Regions from separate parts of the Homo sapiens genome. Here region 1 is linked to region 2. Evidence: fine-mapped expression QTL. A gene starts in region 2. The other region holds a variant in brackets. All regions are shown on one strand. Distances are from middle to middle. Region 1 overlaps ITGA10 (integrin subunit alpha 10). Region 2 holds the start of ANKRD34A (ankyrin repeat domain 34A).

Region 1 (5,366 bases), 59 kb before region 2:
CAAGTTCCCAGTCCTTGGACAGTTCACAAGACACTGCCCCCCTGCCACTCCCCAACTCTTCCAGATCCAGGGTGAATTCTCACTGCAATCCCATAGCGTGTCACTCTTCCAGCCTCACAGGCCTTTAGTGCTGCAGGAAGCTCCTCTCCATCATGGGACTCTCCATCAGTGACAACCACCAGTAGCCTGGCAGCCTCGGGTCGGCCCCCATGGGACTGACTGAACCCTTCTGTGCTGAGAAGAGAAAGGAGTGAGGTGAGATCAGATGTATGCAGACACACACACACACACACACATACACACACACACACACACACACACACACACACACACACACACAGGATTTAACATCAGCACTTCCCTGAGGTCAGGCATCTTGCCTTTTAGGCCATTTCCTGAGTATTTAACATGGAGATGGCATGGAGTGAGAGCTCAAATGTTTGAAGGTCATAGAACATACAGAGTAGCTTATCAGTCCAAATAAGTACAACGTTCATACACTCAGATTCATTCAACAAATATTGCACTTGGGAGGGGAAATATCGATGAAATATAGAACGGAAAAGAATGATCTGGGCAGGGACTCCTCCCAGAGATGAGTTGTTTTGTTTTGTTTCAATTTTACCACCGTGCCCCTAGAGATGAGTTTTGGATCATGTTTGGAACGTGGGCTAGGACATCAGTAGTGGAGAACCTGTGGGCCAGGATCATTGTTGGAGTGGAGGGATAGAAAGAGACTTCTGTCTGTGAAATATGGAGAGACACAGACATAGATACTTTGTAGAAATGCAGTGAGAGGGAGTACAATGACAGCCCACTTAGCCTTCCTCTTTGTACCATTAGTGTACATACAAAGAAAGTATGCAAGACATCTTGGGATATACACACTGCACTCCAAACCTGCCCTAACTCTTCTTCTTCTTCTTTTTTTTTTTTTAAGGGAAAGATTTTCATTTCATTTTATTTTATTTTATTTTAGATGGAGTTTTGCTCTCGTTGCCCAGGCTGGAGTGCAATGTTGTGATCTCGACTCACTGCAACCTCCACCTCCCGGGATTAAGTGATTCTCCTGCCTCAGCCTCCGAAGTAGCATGCCTCTGAACAGGCATGCGCCACCATGCCTGGCTAATTTTGTATTTTTAGTAGAGATGGGGTTTCTCCATGTTGGTCAGGCTGGTCTCGAACTCCTGACCTCAGGTGATCCGCCTGCCTTGCCTCCCAAAGTGCTGGGATTACAGGCGTGAGCCACCATGCCTGGCCCCGCCCTAACTCTTCTAAGCCTTCATTGCTCTAGCCTCCCACACCTGTCTTCCCAATGCCTCACCAGGCCACCATTATTGCTTGGGCAGTCTTTGTTTCTCGTCCCTCCCGCCGACTGAGGTTCTTTGCTGCTCTCACCACTTCTTCCTTCGTTCGGAAATCTCCCAGGGACCACTCATGTACAGGGCTCTCCCCATACTGTACCAGTCCCACCTGGGAATAAAGCGCATTCAAATGAAATGTATGTATGTGAGATGGGGGGAGAGGAGGAAGAAGAAAGTATATAAGAGAGGAGAGATGAACACCTGGATACTACTGAAGACAACACCTACATTTATCCCCTCTCTCTCTGTCTCTCCCCTTCCAAGCCCATCCATATTGCCTTTCTCTCTCTCTCTAAGAAATGAGGTCTCACTCTTTCACCCAGGCTGGAGTGCAGTTGTGTGATCAAAGCTCACTACAGCCTCAAACTCCTGGGCTCAACTGATCTCTTGCCTCAGCCTCCTGAGTAGCTGGGACTGTAGGCGCATGCCACCATGCCTGGCTATTTTTTTTTTCTTTCATATTTTTAGAGATGAGGTCTCACTGTATTGCCCAGGCTAGTCTTGAACTCCTGGCCTCAGGGGATCCTCCCACCTCCACCTCTTAAGTAGGTGCCACAAGCAACTGTGCCCAGCTCATATTGCCTTCTCTTACCTGTATCTGTTCTGGGTCAATAAACAGTTTCCCTACCAGTCTTCGTAGGAAGGTCTGAACTTCAGACCAGGGGTAGATGCTGTTGGAGCCATCCAAGACAATGACAACATCCATGTATGTTGGGCAGCCTAGAAGGAAGGAGAACACTGAGGTAGAGGACACTGAGCTGGGGGCAACAAGGGAAAGAGGTCACAGGAGGACACATTCAATTTAGACATTTATAAGGCACTTCTTACATGCAAAGAAGGTACTGTGCCAGGCTCTGTGTAAGTGTAGAAATTAATAAAATATTCCTTTAGTAATCTTTAGTAATTGTGTGTATGTAAGTATACATATAAATGTATATATATGTATATATGTATATATAGGTATATAAACACACACACCTACACATTTATATACATAGATATAATTTATATATACAATGTTCTAAAAAACAAGAAGGAATTAAATGCTATGTAGGAACATAGCAATGACTGTATGGTGGGGGAACAAAAGCAGAGTGGTTCTGATGGTGAGGAATGAAACATGGTAGCAACTATGAAGACTGAAAATGTTTAAGGAGAAGAGAATATTAGGAAAGGCATGTGGGTAGAGAACATTTTTTTTTTTTTGAGACAGAGTCTCGCTCTATTGCCCAGGCTGGAGTGCAGTGGCGCAATCTCGGCTCACTGCAAGCTCTGCCTCCTGGGTTCACGCCATTCTCCTGCCTC[A/G]GCCTCCCGAGTAGCTGGGACTACAGGCGCCCGCCACGACACCCGGCTAATTTTTTGTGTTTTTAGCAGAGACAGGGTTTTACTCTGTTAGCCAGGATGGTCTCGATCTCCTGACCTCGTGATCCACTGGCCTCGGCCTCCCAAAGTGCTGGGATTACAGGCGTGAGCCACCACGCCTGGCCCATTTTGTTTGTTTTTGAGACAGAGTCTCACTCTGTCGCCCAGGCTGGAGTGTAGTGGCATAATCATGGCTCACTGCAGCCTGGACCACCTGGGCTCAAGTGATCCTCCCACCTTGGCCTCCTGAGTAGCTGGGACCACAGGCATGCACCACCATACCCAGCTAATTTTTTTATTTTTTATTTTTGTAGAGATGGGGTCTCTCTATGTTGCCCAGGCTGGTCTCAAACCTCCAGACCTCAAGCAATCCTCCTGCGTTGGCCTCCCAAAATGTTGGGATTACAGGCATGAGTTACTGTGCCAGGCCAGATCATGGACTCCTGATAAGGAGTCTGAATTATTATTATTATTATTTTTGAGATGGAGTCTCGCTTACTCTGTCACCCACGCTAGAGTGCAGAGGCACAATCTTGGCTCACCGCAACCTCCACCTCCTGGGTTGAAGTGAGAGTCTCCTGTCTTAGCCTCCCGAGTAGATGAGATTACAGGCATGCACTAGCGCACCCAGCTAATTTTTGTATTTTTTTTTTTTAGTAGAGATGGAGTTTCACCATGTTGGCCAGGCTGGTCTTGAACTCCTGACCTCAAGTGATCTGCCCACCTTGGCCTCCCAAAGTGCTAGAATTACAGGTGTGGGCCACCACACCTGGCCAGGAGTCTGAATCTGTTAGGAAACATGGAGCTTTTGCAAGCACATTAGGTAGCAATGAGGATAGCCATGCAGGCCCTTTGCCAGGCATCATACCGCTTTGCCCCATCTTTTTCCCACCCAGTATCTCCTTCTGGGAACCAAGTACTCAGCCTTCCTCTGGCTCACGTTGGGCAGTGGGTGCCAGGCTTCCCTGAGGCTGGAATGAAGCATCCACACGGGCACATATCCCAGAACTGAAGACAGAGCTGCCACAAGCACGAGACCAGAGAGGGGCACAGGCCTGGGGATGGGGGAAATAGTTACTCCCAGGCTTGGGAGGGCACCCTCAGAACATGCTCCCAGTTGAAGGAGGCATGAAGACTACTCCCTGACATTACCTACCTTTTGCTTTCTAGGGTTTTTAACTCCTTGACCCCTCCACACAGACCATTTTCCCTTACCACACTTCTCTTTTTTCTTTTATGGACCTTCAGAGACACTGCCACCACCCTCTCCTTAGCTCACCATGAATCCCCCATCACCATCTGTCTCTAACAGAGACATCCCCAGGTGCATATTCACAGCAGGATGAGATGAATTTCCCAGTTGGTAGTCACCTGGTTGGAAGGAGGTGGAAGAGAATGAGATCATGGGGTCATAGATGGGGTGCTTGAATTCATGTGATTTTGGAGGAGAATGAGCAGGGATTGGTATCAGATTGGGGACAGGGAGTATGCGGATTTTAGGGGTGAAAAAGCTGAGGTATAGGGAGTTGAAGCTTCTAGAGTATCAAAGTCAGGGGTTAGGAGGAGAAGGGTCAGGCATCTTCTCACCTAAGTGGCCCTTGGCACATGGGGCATTGTGGGCCCCCCCTACAGGGCAGCGATAAACGTCCCCCCTCCGGTCGCCTGAAGGCCCATCCCAGGGGGCGCCCACCAGCATCCTGGGAAGAGGATGTGAATGTAAGTAAGCACAGGGCAAACATGACCCTTGACATAGGCCAAAGGGAAAGAGCATGGAGGTGGTAAGTTTAGAGCCCCAGCCACTTTCAAAAGACCAGATTAGTTTAGAGTCCCATCTATCTTGCCTCCCCTTTGTTAGCACTACTGCAGTCCCAATCCCCTGGCACTCCGGTTTCTTCCTCACCATCGCTGTCCACCCCCAACATGTTGTAAGACACTGTATCCAAATTCAGCTTCTGGTGGCCCTGGGAATAGGCGTGGGTGATGTTCATCCAGGTTAAAGGGGGAGCAGAGACCTGTGGGGTCAGGATCATAATGTTAGTATGAGGTAGTGAATGGCTAGAGGCACAGCCCGAGAGAAGCTGTGAGGAAGCGTCTTAATCTCAGTCTGCCTGCCTGCTTTTTCACTCATAAGCTTTTCTGGCCTCTCTCAGTGTCATGTACTCAGAGCTCCAGGCAAAGATGATTCCCTTCCTGTGTTTGTGTCCAGATGCCTAAACTGTGGCCCTCTGCCATGCTGATGTACAGCTGTATTTCCATTCCCACCCCTGAAATTTCATTCACAGACATGTCTGAAAAGGTCAAGTTACTTTTTTTTTTTTTTTTTTTTTTTTTTTTTTGAGACGGAGTCTCTCTGTCGCCCAGGCTGGAGTGCAGTGGCGTGATCTCGGCTTACTGCAGGCTCCGCCCCCCTGGGTTCACGCCATTCTCCTGCCTCAGCCTCCCGTGTAGCTGGCACTACAGGCGCCTGCCACCTCGCCCGGCTAATTTTTCTTATTTTTAGTAGAGACGGAGTTTCACCGTGTTAGCCAGGATGGTCTCGATCTCCTGACCTCATGATCCGCCCGCCTCGGCCTCCCAAAGTGCTGGGATTACAGGCGTGAGCCACCGCGCCTGGCTACTCTTTTCCACAACATTCCTTCC
Region 2 (5,375 bases):
CTTTCCTCTGTCCCCCTTGTCTTATCCACACTTGGGATCCCCCTTTCTAGGATGCTGAACGCCACCCACCCACATACATGCACCCTACAGTCACACATGTATTCTCATTCCTAACCTGTTTTAGCTTGCCACAACCCCAAAAATTGAGTGGGGGGAGGGAAGCAGCCTGCATTTGAGACCTAAAACGGGTGGAGGGAGAATTGGGGGGTTCTATTGCCCCTGCGATGTTCCCCATCACTCCTTGCTCTTTCCCCTCCCAGGCTGTGTGCCCAGATAGATACCTGAATGTCCGCAGAATCTCCGCCTGGCCAGGATTGGGGCCGTGGCCACGGGGCAGCCGAGGTGGCGGAGCCAGTTTCCTGGGGGCCCGCATGGCGTGGGGGGGGGGGCACCCGGATTCCCTTGGTGTCAGTATCTGCGCCCCGGCGCCGGATCCTGGTCCCTCCTCCCGGAGCGCCCCGGGCACAGCGCCGGCTCGGGAGGAGAGAAGCTTGGCGGGGGGGGGGGGGGGGGGGGGGGCGGAGCTCTGCTGTGCTATTTATAGCCTAGTCACTGCGGGTGGGGGCGTCAGGCACCAAACTGCTCCCCCACTCATGCACACATAAACCCTCAAAAACCTAGAGGCTCCAATCCTGACTTCCTTTTCTCAGCCGACCTCCCCTCAGCCCCAACAAACCTAAGTGTTCCTTAGGGGACTCCTCCGCGACCCAGACAGGGACCATCATCCAGATTCTTCGCTGAGATTCAGCAGATCCCCATTCTCCGCACTTGGTGTGTTTGTGCGCTCCTGTGCGCCAGACCTGACCTGCCATACACGGCACATGGCACACTGTGTAAGAAAGGTGTAGAAAGGCTTTTTGGATCCACAGCCGGTGTCCATACTGTGCAAAGAGAGGCAAGAGATGTGGCTTTCTTCCTGTAGTTTAATTGTGAAGGAGATCACGGTCCAGCCTGGAGTCAGACACAGATACACCCCCGCCCCATCTCTCAAAAACGGAACACCCATCGCAGAGAAACTTGGACCTCAGCTCCCTTATGTAGACCTCTTAGATAAGTATGAGGAAGGTGGATATGGGAGCACTTTTAGATAAGGCAAGGGACATTCCAGGTGCCTCCACCCCGTATTATTGTGGGCAGGGAGATAGGACAGGGGCAGGAAGAAGAGCGAACCTTGTAATACACTCTCTCACATTGCATCTCTTTAATCTCAGTCTTGCTTAGACGTCTTATTTTTTCCATCTTGCTTGACGATCTCTGTCTGAAACATTCCTTATATCTTCTCTCTTCCTATCTGTCTATTGGTCTCTCACACTGTCTCTGCCTCTCCTTGCCACCTGCCCTGTCTCCATGGTTACCATAGCTTCCATCCACATATTTTAGGAATGAGTTTGTGTCCAGCTGGAAGGCACCAAGGGAAGTGGGAGAAAAAGAAAAATCCTAAGGATTTAAAAAGTTCACTCAGGGTCCTGAGCTAATTCAGAGGCTGGAGGCCCCCCAGATGCAAGATACTGAAAATAATGTTCCCGGGGATGGGAGAGAGAGAGAAATATTTGCAGGAAGCTACCCATTTTTACTAGTTATTTCTTGGACACGTGTCAACTATGTGCCATGTGCTTTACATACACTATTTTCAATCCTCACAACTTTATAAGATAGGAACTATCATCTTCTTGTTACAGATGAGGAAACAGACTTAATAAGGTTAAGCAAGCTCTCCAAAGCTTCACAGCTATGTTTCTGTCCTATGGCAAAGACTGGGAGCTTGCCACTACACCTACAGCCTCCCAGTCTACAGGCCATTTTCTCTGACATCTGGGATGTTCTTCTTGACTAACTCCTAGATTTCATCTCCATTCTGAACCTTTCTCCCTTGTTTCTGCTTTCTGTGAAAATAGGACTCCTCCTTCCACTCTGCTGGCTTTCCCAAGGAGCTCGCAGGAAGTGGAAAGTAGTGGAAAATGCAGAAAAAGCTGGGCTCCTGCCCTGTCTCCCCAACCCTGGTACGCTGATCCCAAATCCTTCCTTTCTTGAACCCTCTGCCCACCTTCTCACAGACACGGCAGCAACCCACAGAAAAACATTTTTAGAAAAGAAGTATCCATTGGTGGTGCTGGAGAGAGGCAGTGTATGATTGAAAGGAAGGCTGGAGTAATGGAGAGACCAAGCTATGAAGCTAGAGTCACAAAAAGACTGATCCCTAAAGAGCAGCTTTTACAGAGGTTCATTTCTCCGTAGGCCCTCTCCTCCTTTGGCCTCTCTGTAGGGGCTCCCTCAACACGGTCCCTCGATGAGATATGAGTGTCACGTTCCCTCGGTGAACTCTCGCCGGCTAGTGGCTCCTTCATCTGGAGTGAGACCGGAAATAAGTGACCCCAGCTGATTCTGCAACGCCCATCTCTCTCTGCGACCCGCTTCGCAAGCTTCGGTTCCGGGCGTACTCGCTCCCTCCCTCCTTCTCTTCCTAGGCTTCAAGAGGGCGGACTTCCCTCCTCGGCTTCTCCTGCATTGGCCGAGAAAACTCACCAATAGGGAGCTCCGGGAGGCGGGCTTAGAACGCCACCGACTTGAGGAAGCCCAGTACATTTCAAGTTGGTCGCGGCTTGGGCTCCGCTTTGGGGAGGGGCAGCAGGTAAGGCTTGACCTGGTTCGGTCCGACACTTGCCAAACTTGTTCACCCCGGCCAGGCTGCGAAATAGACAACGCTTTCCGTCAGGTTGTTGGATCAGCCCCCTTCTGGCTCCCTACCGTTTCTCCCCTGGGCTTCCATTTCTGTATTGATTGTATACTAGAGAATGGCAGTTTTCTATCGCGCATGGGGAGAGACATTAAAGCAGAAAACGAGACAGCCTCTTGTATCTGTCTTTGCTATAGCATCAACTTCCCCCTAATCTATTAATATTATCCCAAGAGCCTGACAAACTCCTGTTATCTATGAAGACTAGCTGAAATGCTACCTGTAGTTTTCCTGGGCCGCCTTTCTTGCAAAATGAATTGTTCCCCCGTCTACGATAGCGTTTTGTATATACCTTTATTAGGACACTTAGTGCACTGTCTCTCTTTAACGTTTCTATGCCTTTTAGAATAGAAGGTTTTGTAGGACAGGTGCTAGTAGTTAATATATAGTGCCCAATAAACGTTAGTTAAATAGAATTGATTTCTGGTAACTAGCACTCTTTTTGGGGAGGCAGAATTTAAACTCCTAACATAACTAGGGAACAATAAAAGACAATACAGTATGTAATTAAGAGCCATTAAATTAGTGGTTCATAATATTAGTGTTTCATAATTGTTTCTACAATCTAGAGAAGGAAGAAAGCAAGGAGAACTGGAATGGTGAGGGGAGGCTTTATGGATCACAATTTCTCAAGTTTGGAAAGGCCCATAGAAATGATGTATTTATTCATTCAATAAATATTTATTGAGCACCTACTATATGCCAGACACAATGCTAAATCATGCTGATCATAGGGAATCCTCTACTAGAGCCATGCATCCTTCTTACAAACCCTATGTAGTAAATTTTTACCCAGCTTCTATGTAAACATCTTTAGTAAGGGAACTCTCTTATCTCTCTTGTAGATCATTCAATTTTTTGATACCTGTTCTTTAGTCAATATCCTACAAATATTCTAAATAAGAAATATATAGCTAAAGGAAATGCATTCCACACTTCCACTGTAAAAGAGGGAAATATGGCTGGGCACGGTGGCTCATGCCTGTAATCCCAGCACTTTGGGAGGCCGAGGCGGGCAGATCGCCTGAGGTCGGGAGTTGGAGACCAGCCTGACCAACGTGGAGAAACTCTGTCTCTACTAAAAATACAAAAATTAGCTGGGCGTGTTGGCGCATGCCTGTAATCCCAGCTACTGGGGAGGCTGAGGCAGGAGAATCATTAGAACCCAGGAGGCGGAGGTTGCAGTGAGCTCAGATCGCACCATTGCACTCCAGCCTGGGCAACAAGAGCAAAACTCCCTCTCAAAAAAAAAAAAAAAAAAAAAAAAAGGAAATCTGTCCTTTTACAGTGGAATTGGTAGCATTCTTAAAAGCAAGCCATTTCTGGCTGGGCGTGGTGGCTCATGCCTGTAATTCCAGCACTTTGGGAGGCTGAGGTAGGCAGATCACTTTAGCCCAGGAGTTCAAGACCAGTCTAGGCAACATGACAAAACCCTGTCTCTACAAAAACTACAAAAAAAATAGCCAAGCATGGTGTCTCAGGCCTGTAGTTCCAGCTGCTCAGGAGGCTGAGGTGGAGGGTTGCTTGAGCTGGAGAAGTCGAGGCTGCAGTGAGCCAAAATTGCCACTGCACTGCACTTCAGCCTAAGCGACAGAGCAAGAACCTGTCTCAAAAAAAAAAAAAAAAAAAAGAGGCCGGGCGTGATGGCTCATGCCTGTAATCCCAGCACTTTGTGAGGCCAAGGCGGGTGGATCACGAAGTCAGGAGTACAAGACCAGCCTGACCAACATGGAGAAACCCCATCTCTACTAAAACTACAAAAAAAATTAGCCAGGCATGGTGGCGCATGCCTGTAATCCCAGTTACTCGGGGGGCTGAGGCAGGAGAATCACTTGAACCCAGGAGGTGGAGGTTGCGGTGAGCTGAGATTGCGCCATTGCACTCCAGCCTGGACGACAAGAGTGAAACTGTCTCAAAAAAAAAATAATAAAATAAAAAGAACATAAATAAATAAAATGGGTATTTTTTAACCATTCATTTATTGTTAGATTGTTTCAGTTATTTCAGAATTTTTGCTACCATAAATAGCTCTTTGATGAATATCCTTTTACTTATATCTGTGACTGTATATCTGTTGATGTCTTTGGAATATATTTTTAAAGTGGGATTGCTGGATTAGGGATATAAACATTTCAAAGGCTGTTGATTTAACTGGACAAATTGCTCCCCTTGAAATATTATGTTTATAGTCTTTCCAGTGAGGTATGAGAGTGTCCATTTGAAAAAAAACTCATGACAGCCTGCTTATTATTTAAATCTTTGTCACTTTCATAGGTGAAGAGTGGTTTTATTGGCCATTCTCTCTCCTTTTTTTTTTTTTTGAGACAGTCTTGCTCTGTTGCCCAAGCTGGAGTGCAGTGGTGAGATCTCAGCTCACTGCAACCTCCACCTCCTGTGTTCAAGTGAGTCTCATGCCTCAGCCTCCTGAGTAGCTGGAATTAAAGGTGTGTACCACTGTGCCTGGCTAATTTTTTGTATTTTTAGTAGAGACAGGGTTTCTCTATGTTGCCCAGGCTGGTCATGAACTCCTGGCCTCAAGTGATCTGTCCACCTCGGCCTCCCAAAACCCTGGATTACAGGAGTGAGCCACCATGTCCAGACATGGCCATTCTCTTTGCCAGTTGCCTGTTCATGTCCTTTG

The links. PIP is the estimated chance that this variant, and not a neighbour inherited with it, causes the effect.
Region 1: its variant is fine-mapped to the expression of ANKRD34A in whole blood (TOPMed, PIP above 0.99). The same link has a PIP of 0.9 or more in blood mononuclear cells.

The regions. Positions count from the first base shown.
Region 1 is chr1:145,902,728-145,908,093 of GRCh38, forward strand. It overlaps ITGA10 (integrin subunit alpha 10), which reads right to left. Exons shown (of 30, transcript NM_003637.5): 2 at 4,627-4,738; 3 at 4,314-4,423; 4 at 4,006-4,097; 5 at 3,667-3,781; 6 at 1,957-2,084; 7 at 1,325-1,473; 8 at 84-234. Among named protein-coding and RNA genes, the nearest start is that of ITGA10, 4.6 kb to the right of the region's middle. The variant A/G (reference allele first, on the strand shown) is at 2,670.
Region 2 is chr1:145,962,140-145,967,514 of GRCh38, forward strand. It overlaps ANKRD34A (ankyrin repeat domain 34A), which reads right to left and starts at 2,436. Exons shown (of 4, transcript NM_001039888.4): 1 at 2,045-2,436; 2 at 1,171-1,398; 3 at 282-829. POLR3GL (RNA polymerase III subunit GL) reads left to right here and starts at 2,551. Exons shown (of 8, transcript NM_032305.3): 1 at 2,551-2,629. RefSeq lists a silencer at 1,668-1,962 and an enhancer at 2,278-2,447.